Regions from separate parts of the Homo sapiens genome. Here region 1 is linked to region 2. Evidence: fine-mapped expression QTL. A gene starts in region 2. The other region holds a variant in brackets. All regions are shown on one strand. Distances are between the middles of the regions. Region 1 overlaps RBBP8NL (RBBP8 N-terminal like). Region 2 holds the start of LINC00659 (long intergenic non-protein coding RNA 659).

Evidence for each region.
Region 1: its variant is fine-mapped to the expression of LINC00659 in monocytes (Quach 2016, PIP 0.95).

Annotation. Positions count from the first base shown.
Region 1 is chr20:62,418,823-62,423,202 of GRCh38, reverse strand. It overlaps RBBP8NL (RBBP8 N-terminal like), which reads left to right. Exons shown (of 14, transcript NM_080833.3): 2 at 3,473-3,616. The coding sequence starts at 3,556. Among named protein-coding and RNA genes, the nearest start is that of RBBP8NL, 6.5 kb to the left of the region's middle. RefSeq lists an enhancer at 1-194. The variant A/T (reference allele first, on the strand shown) is at 2,671.
Region 2 is chr20:62,775,092-62,779,471 of GRCh38, reverse strand. It overlaps LINC00659 (long intergenic non-protein coding RNA 659), which reads left to right and starts at 2,616. Exons shown (of 3, transcript NR_046225.1): 1 at 2,616-2,666; 2 at 4,086-4,157. RefSeq lists a silencer at 3,148-3,309.

The DNA.
Region 1 (4,380 bases), 360 kb after region 2:
GATTCCGTGGGCTGTCAGGAAGGTCTCAGTGTGTACGGAGTTCGGGAAACAGGGTCAGAACCACTGATGCTGGCCACGTGACCTGCTTCCGGCAGGCTCCATGCTGTCCCCACCTCTGGAGCTCAGCGTCCTGTTGGTCCCCTTCACCAGCAAAGACATCCCTCCCAGCCTCCCACCAGGAAAGCCCCAAGTCTCCCTAGTCCCAGGATCCCTCACCCACCCAACACAGAGCCGCCAACTGTCACCCCCACTCCCTCCGAGGGTGGCTGGAGGCCCCAAAGCCCAGGCGGGTCTGTGGACTGAGCCTCTGCAGCCCAGCATCCTGGTGCTCCGCCCTCCATGCAGCCCCACTAGCCCTGTCAGGGGCCCCTGGGGACGCTGCAGCCACCCCCGAACACAGGCCACACTCTGTCCCACACCCCTTGCTGCCCCACCAGGCTCGGCACTAATGCTTGATCACAGGTGCAAGGGCTCGGCAAGAGTTAGGACACCCTCCTTCCAAGTGGCTCCAGTCACCATCCCCACCCCGGTCCCCATCCCCACCCCGGTCCCCATCCCCACCCCGGGCCCCATCCCCACTCCGGGCCCCATCCCCACCCCAGTCCCCGTCCCCACCCCAGTCGCCATCCCCACCCCAGTCCCCGTCCCCACCCCAGGCCCCATGGCCTCTCTCGGGGTCCCAAGGCCTCTCTCGGGGTCCAAGGCCTGCCACCCTCAGTTAGAGGCACCCCAGCCCCACCCCCAAAGACGCCCACCACCTGACTTCCAGGGCCCCAGGGCAAGTGCCTCTTTCTGTGTTCAATGCACCCTCAAGCCTGGCTTGGGTGGTTTGGCCACGCTGGGATGGGCATGGGGCTGGGCGGCCACCATATTCCACCCGTCATGGGATGGGGTTAGGCGGTCCTGTTCGGGACGGTTCTGTAGAATGATGTTGCACACAGGACCCTCACGTGGGCGTCTCCAGGCTGACCTTTGAGAACCCAGATGCAGCCATGGCTGTTCCGCTCTGTGATCCACTTGGGCTGGGCTGGCCGTGGCGAGGCCTTGGGCATGGCCTCCAGCTGCGAGCCCGAAGTTGGATTTTGAGCAGAGCGGTGCACATCTGAGCAGAGACCAGAGCTTCCCAGGGATGGCCACCATGGAGAGTGGTCCTGGAAGAGATGGGGGGAGGCAGGGGGTTCAGGGAAGGTTGAGCAGGAGGCCAGGCAGGGAGGAGGCCGACACAGTTGTTCAGGTGACGCACCAGTGGTTCCACAGTAGGTTGGGTATGCACACACACAGCACACACACATGCACACTGGCTTGGGCACGCACACACAGAGCAAAAACAGATGCACACACATGGCACACACACATGCACACTGGCTCGGGTGTGCACACACAGCAAACACACATGCACACTGGCTCAGGCATGCACACACATGGCACACACCCGCACACTAGCTCGGGTATGCACACACATGGCACACACACATGCACACTGCCTATCATGCACACATGCCACACACATGCACACTGGCTTGAGCATGCACACACAGCACATACACATGCACACTGGCTCTGGCACACACACATGCACACTGCCTATCATGCACACATGCCACACACATGCACACTGGCTCAGGCGTGCACACACATGGCATACACACATGCACACTGACTTGGGTGTGCACACACATGCACACTGGCTATCACACACACACAGCACACACATGCACACTGACTTGGGCATGCACACACACGGCACACACACATGCACACTGGCAATCACGCATACACGGCACACACACGCACACTCACGCACACTGACTTGGGTGTGCACACACATGGCACACACACATGCACACTGGCTCAGGTGTGCACACACATGGGACACACACTGGCTCGGGCGTGCACACACATGGCACACACACACGCACACTGGCTATCATGCACACACACGGCACACACATGCACACTGGCTCGGGCGTGCACACACACGGCAAACACACACACTCCCCCACCCGACCGCGTGAAGCACAAGCCACCCGGTGAAGAAGTCTGAACTGCAGCGGTTTGTGTGCCACAAACACTGGCTTGCAGAGGCCCAGCCACTTGACCGGTATCCCAACCTCCCAGGCCTGGAGGCCAATCTGTGGGAGGAGGGGGAAGGGTCAGGGGAGGACAGACAGACAGTCACAGCGCCCCCAGGCTCACTCCGCCCAGCCCTGCCTGGGAGCTCTCCAGGCCACTGGGAATTTGGAAAGGTCTGGGAGGGTTTGACGATGAGTGCTCCAGCCCAGGTCCCCAGGCCCAGCCTGCAAAGGCCCCACGGCCCCTTAATTCTGGCCTTAGTCCGTGAGACCACAAGATACCCACTGCCTACCAAGGACCTCCTGAGACCTGTGGGTAGGGGAGGCAGGCAGGGAGGGAGGGGGCCTGTGACCTCTTCAGAGTGGCTCCTACCTCTTCCTGGAACCTTCCAGCATCTGCGTGTGGGAGCCGCTTCCGGGCAGAGGGGGCTGCTGTGGCTGTGTGTGTTTCCGTGTACCTGCAACTGCATGTGTAGCTGTGTCTCTATGTCTGCACAGCTTTGTTGTCAGCATGTGTCTGCGTATACCCATGTCTATGTGTCTCTGTGTGTTGTGTGTGGGCATCCCTGTCTGTGTACATATGTGTTGTATGTGTGTA[A/T]CTCTGGGTGTGTGCCTGTGTGTTGTGTGTATACATGCTGTGTGGTGTGTCTGTCTTTGTGCATGTGTGTTATGTGTGTACATGCTCTGTGTGTGTCTTTTGCATATATGTGCATGTGTGTTGTGTGCACATGCTATCTGTGTGTGTGTGTGTGTGTGTGTGTGTGTGTGTGTGTGTGTGTGCCTGTGGGACAGGATTGAAGCTGCCACGGCATTGGAGGGGGACAGAGATCCCAGGAGGGAACTGAGTACAGGGCTCTGGTGAGAGGGAAGGAGGTGCTGTGACAGTGGTGTTGGGGCCGGGGTGTGGACAGTGGCATGGTAGGGTCTGTGGGGCTCTTACTGGTGAGGTCTGACTCCCAGCTTCACAGCTGGGCAGGTGCCACCAGCACCATCCAGCTCTTGCCAGGCTTCCCTGTCCCTCCATTGAGGTGCCAGGGGAAGGGCTTATGTGGGGACAGGCCAGGCACTGATGGGCTGGATACCTGGGGAGAACGGGGTGGCTCAGAGGTGCCGGCACTCACCCCAGATGCTCCCTGGCCCCTCCAGCCCCTCCCGCACGGCAGCCAGCACCCTGCCCTCTGGCCCCCGGCCACATACGTGTGGGAGGAAGCCACACAATGTACTATCTCTGTGCCTGCCCGTGGGGTTCGGGAGCCTCCAGGCCACCTCCCATGAGTAGCCCCTACAGCATGGCATGGGGTCTGCTCCATACAGACACAAGGAGCCCCAATCCTCTCCTGGACTCCACAGCCCACAAGCCCTTCCTGAGCGGATCCCTGTCCCCTCTTCCTCCTCTTCAGGATGGACACAGAGGGGCAGTAGAGGCTGCAGGCGTCTCCACAACCCCAGCGCAGAGGGGCCCGGGCCAGGGCCACAGGGAGCCATGGAGAGCTTCATGGAGTCGCTGAACAGGCTGAAGGAGATCCACGAGAAGGAAGTCCTGGGTGAGGGGCCAGGGACAGATGCCAGGCTAGGGAGGGGTCTCCACAGCCCTCACCTAAGGGTCGGAGCAGGCCACTGTGCACCCATGATCACCTCCAATTCCCACCAAGTCAGGGAATGGACCCCGTCTTTTTGGCCCAGGCAGGGGAGTCCTGACCCAAGGCCCAGAGCTACAACGTGGCAGACACCCTGCCTGGGCCCGAGTGCTGACCTCAAGCGGGGATGTCCTCGAGCCACTCCCAGAGTGTGACCCCGAGGGGGAGGGGCACTTTCAAGGGTTGCCACCAACACCTCATGGCCACCTGCCACCCGCAGGCCCCATGCTGCCCATGCTTTGTTCTCCCGTGGGCCGGCCTCCAGCGTGGCAGAAAGAAGTACCCACCCTGGCCGGCCTGCTGAGCTCACCAGGGCAGAGACAGCCACTTCCAGAAACAGGAGCTTATGGCTCTCTGGACCCATCCAGAACATGTCAAGGCACTGAGCTGCAACTCTTCTCTTCCTTCTAGGACACGCCCCAGGCCCCACCCCTGTCCACTTCCCCCACGAGGGACAGGGCCGCAGCCCCCACACCACCCCCAGTCCAGTCCCAGGGCCAGCACCTCCCCGTGGTCTTTCCACTGAGCACCCACACCCACCTGGAGGTCCAAGGACCCGGCTGCCTCCTAGGCAACCCAGAGAGGTGGGGCTGCTGGGGCTAGCCAGGCCCAGGTTGGATCCCCAAGATACGGCAAGGAGAGGGTCTGGTGGGGTCCGCCCCAGAAGCTTA
Region 2 (4,380 bases):
CGTGGCCAGTTCCTTCCTCAAGTGCTGTTGTTGCAGGGGCGAGACTGCAGAGGATTGGTGAGCACGGCGGACTTCAGCCACCACTGACACCGTGGCCTGTGGGCGGGGCCCCGGGGCCAACAGCTCCTGCTTTCTGAAGGGAAGGTGGGGGCTGTGGGGGCTGCAGGGGGTGGGTGTCACTCAGAGGGCAGCATGGCAGGGAGGGGACCTGTGGCAAGTTTTTGGATCAGAGGGGCAGCGACACAGGGCTAGAACCCTGAGGGTGAGCTGGGAATGGGCAGAGGAGGGCTCAGGGCCTCAGCTCTGCCTCCTGTCGCAGCTGCCCTGGCCAGGTGGCCCGGTGGGACGAGGCCTCCTGGTGGCAGACGCTGCCTCTCATGACTCTTGATGTGCCGAGAAGGTGTGGCCAGGGGCTGTCCTGGCTGGGGCTGGGATGCGGGACGGGGGCCAGGATCCCAGGGTGGAAAAGGGTGGATCTTAAAGTTCATGCCACATCCCCCAACCCAAGGCGGATTCTCTTTCTTGCTGCACCAGTCAGGGCCTGGGGAATGAACTGGCCACTCAGGGTCACGGGCCCACCATCCTCAGCTCCTCTCCCCATCTGTAAATGGAGACAGGGAGGAGTCATTGCCTGGGGCCACCGGAAGCCAGCAAGGCCGGGCCCCAGAGCCACTGCCCAAATGCAGGCTTCCAGGCCTTCTCCCAGACACTGCGGTGTGGGCGTCCGAGACCCAGAGAGGCAGCCTCATGCGCTGGGGCGGGGAGCCAGACGGAGGGTACCCAAGGCCTCCCGCACCAGCCTCATTGATGTGCTGTTCCCCACTGGGCTTGGTACACACAGTAGGTGCTCATTAAATGTGTGTTGAGTGAAACAGACAAATGCAAAGTGGCAGAGTGGGGGCTGCGAGGACAGGTACAGGAGCCCAGGGGCTGTAATCAGGGCCAGGCTGTGTGGTGCAAGGGCCCCGGAGAAGGAGTCATCAGCCTTGGGTCACCTCCTGCAGGCCAGGGTTCACGATGTGAGACAAGAGGCAGGATCACACCAGCCAACAGAGGACCACCCCATCAGACAGGCTGGGGACCACACCATCGAATAGGCCAGGGAACCACACCATCAGATAGATAGGCTGGGGACCACACCAACCACACCATCAGATAGGCTGAGGACCATGCCATCAGACAGGCTGGGGACCATGCCATCAGACAAGCCGGGGACCATGCCATCAGACAAGCCGGGGACGACGCCATCAGACAGGCTGGGGACCAAACCATCAGATAGATAGGTCGGGGACCACACCTTCAGATAGGCTGGGGACCACACCATCAAATAGACCAGGGACCAAGCCATCAGACAGGCCGGGGACCACGCCATCAGACAGGCTGGGGACCACACCTTCAGACAGGCTGGGGACCACACCATCAAATAGACCAGGGACCAAGCCATCAGACAGGCCGGGGACCACACCATCAGACAGGCTGGGGACCACACCATCAGACAGACCGGGGACCATGCCATCAGACAGGCCGGGGACCACGCCATCAGACAGGCCGGGGACCACGCCATCAGACAGACTGGGGACCACGCCATCAGACAGGCCGGGGACCATGCCATCAGACAGGCTGGGGACCACGCCATCAGGCAGGCTGGGGACCACGCCATCAGACATGCTGGGGACCACGCCATTAGATAGACTGGCCAGGGACCATGCCATCAGATAGGCTGGGGCAAAGCCATCAGACAGGTGGAGGTCCATGCCATGGGGCATGAGGTGGTGTCTGTCACCTGGTCCGGGAGCACAGTGTTGCCCATCCGTGCCACCTCCCTGAGGCCCTGGCAAGCATCATTCTCTAATGCAGACAGATGGCTGGGGCGCCAGCAGGAGCCAGACTGCCGCGGAGCAGGAACTGGGCAACTAAGGGTGATTTGGGCCGTAGAGAAGTGATTGATGTGGACAAATGGAGTCTGCAATGCAGGCCCCACGCCACCCTGGCTCCCTGTGCGAACCCAGGGCTCTGCTGCCCTGGCGGGGCTGACTCCATGGACGAGGTGGCTCATGTAGGGCTGGCTGGAAGTAATCATGTCACCCCCTGCAATCATGCCCCCAGGAGATTAGAATAGGACCCTGATCCCTCGTTTCTGTCCTATCCCCTCCTTTCCGTCCCATCTCCTCCTTTCTGCCTCATCTCCTCCTTCCTGCCTCATCTCCTCCTTCCTGCCTCATCTCCTTCCTGCCTCATCTCCTCCTTCCTGCCTCATCTCCTCCTTCCTGTCCCATTTCCTCCTTCCAGTCCCATCTCCTCCTTCCAGTCCTATCTCCTTCCTGCTCCCATCTCTTCCTTCCTGTCCCATTTCCTCCTTCCCGTTCCACCTCCCTGTTCCCATCTCCTCCTCCTGTCCCGCCCCCTCCTTCCTGTCCCGCCCCTCCTTCCTGTCCCACCCTCTCCTTCCTGTCCTGCCCCTCCTTCCTGTCCCGCCCCCTCCTTCCTGTCCCGCCCCTCCTTCCTGTCCCACCCCCTCCTTTCTGTACCTGTTGACCTCATCTGGGCTGCAGTTGGTGACTGCTCGAAGGGGTGGGAGGAACAGTATAAAGTCCTGTCCCCTTCCTGCCTTCAAGGGCACCCCTGAAGGACCATATCCACTGTGGACCCCCTTGGGATCAGCCGAGGTCTGTAGAGGTGACATTGCAGCCCAGCACCTCCCTCCTCCGCCCTGCCCTCCTCTGTCCTCCTTCCACAGGTGTGGCCAAGGGCACTGCCCAGTTGGCCTGTGACCCCCAGCTGAGGCTGCTTCCTGGGCAGCTGACTTCAAGTTTGTGACCTGAGCTCTCCAGGCCCCCGAGCGGCTGGTGCCTTGGCCCTGCAGTTCTGCGGCCAAGACTCCTCCTCTGGGATCTCGTCTTACCCTGCTGCGGGTGCCAGGGCTGCATGAAGCAAGGGCGAAAGTCCCCTTCGCCCGGGCGCTGCCCTCTGCCTGCTGTCCCCTGTGCTCCTGTTCCCCGTGGCTGCCCAGGGACAGGTGTGTGGGATGGAGGACGCGGGAGAGGCTGAGTCCTCCCCAGTGGACCCCCAGATGCAGACCCTGAGGCAAGGGAGAGTGAGAAAGTGAAGGAAAGAACACAGCTGGAAATGCAACCAAGAAGGAACCCCAGCCCGGACCACTGTGAGCAAGGAGAGCCGAGCCCCGGGGAGCCCTGAGACAGTGTGGGAGTGGAGGCCTGGGGCGCCTCCAGGCAAGGCAGCGGGATGTCTATGCCCCAAGCCCTGCCAGTCGTGGATGGAGACGCACACTTTAGTGCGGGCTCCAGAGACAGAGGGAGCCCCAGGCCGAGAGCTGTGGGTGCTGGGCAGGTGGGCATTGGCCAGCATTGCCCCCACTCATGGCGGGTCCACCTTAATTCGACGGGTGTGACACTCTCCTCACACATGTGCACATTCAAGAGGCAACTGTCTGTTTCTATAACTGGGTGCATTTCGGTCTGGAGCCGTCGAGCCGGGTGGTGGCCATGAATCCCAGGCAACTTGGGGGGCCCAATCCAGGGTTGCCTTTTGGGGGCCTTGGGGCGGCTAGTGCAGTTCCACATGCTGTTAAGGACCTTGAGATGGGAGATTATTCTGGATGGTCAGGGTGGGCACAGTTTAATCACAGCCCCTCTAAGAGGGACTGGGAGGGTCAGGGTCAGAGGAGGAGAGGGGACGACGGAAGGGAGAGAGAGGCTGGGAGATGCCGTGCAGCCAAGGAGGGCAGGAACCTCTAGAAACCACAAAAGGCGAGGACACAATCTCTCCCCTGAGGCAGAGACCCAGGGCTGCCCCGCACAGTCGCGCAGATCGTGTACTGCCCTGCTCCTGGGGCTCATTCACACAGGTTGCCATGGCTGTGGGGTCCCTGGGGCTGGGCTATCTGCCAACCTGGGGGACGCTGCACCCTGTTTTCTGTCCTGTCTACTCCAGCTTTTCACACTCTCTGTTGCCCTTGTCCTTGGGCATCTCAGTGACTCGAAGGAATTGGGTCTTGAGACACAGCCGAGCCTGTGAGCGCTGACCTGTGTAAAGAAGACACCAGAATGAGATGTCTCCACACACAGAGAGCTGCAGCCGATGCCGGCCGGTGACTTGGGACTTGGATGCTTAACAGGAGGCTCCCCCTCTCTTGGGAGGTGAGGATGGGGTTGGGAGCATGTGTCTCAGGGGCTGGCTTCACTCGCTCCTTAGCCCCAGCAGGTGCATCTCCCCCCTGCGAGGGCCTGGTTGCTGTAGTTCTTCTAGAAGGCCGCACTGAAGGGACCCTCTGATCCTCATGCCAGCTCTTAAGACATGCTCCACTCTTAAGACAGAGACAGGAGCTCCCGGGCTCGTGCACACCCTCCCTCTGCGCATGTC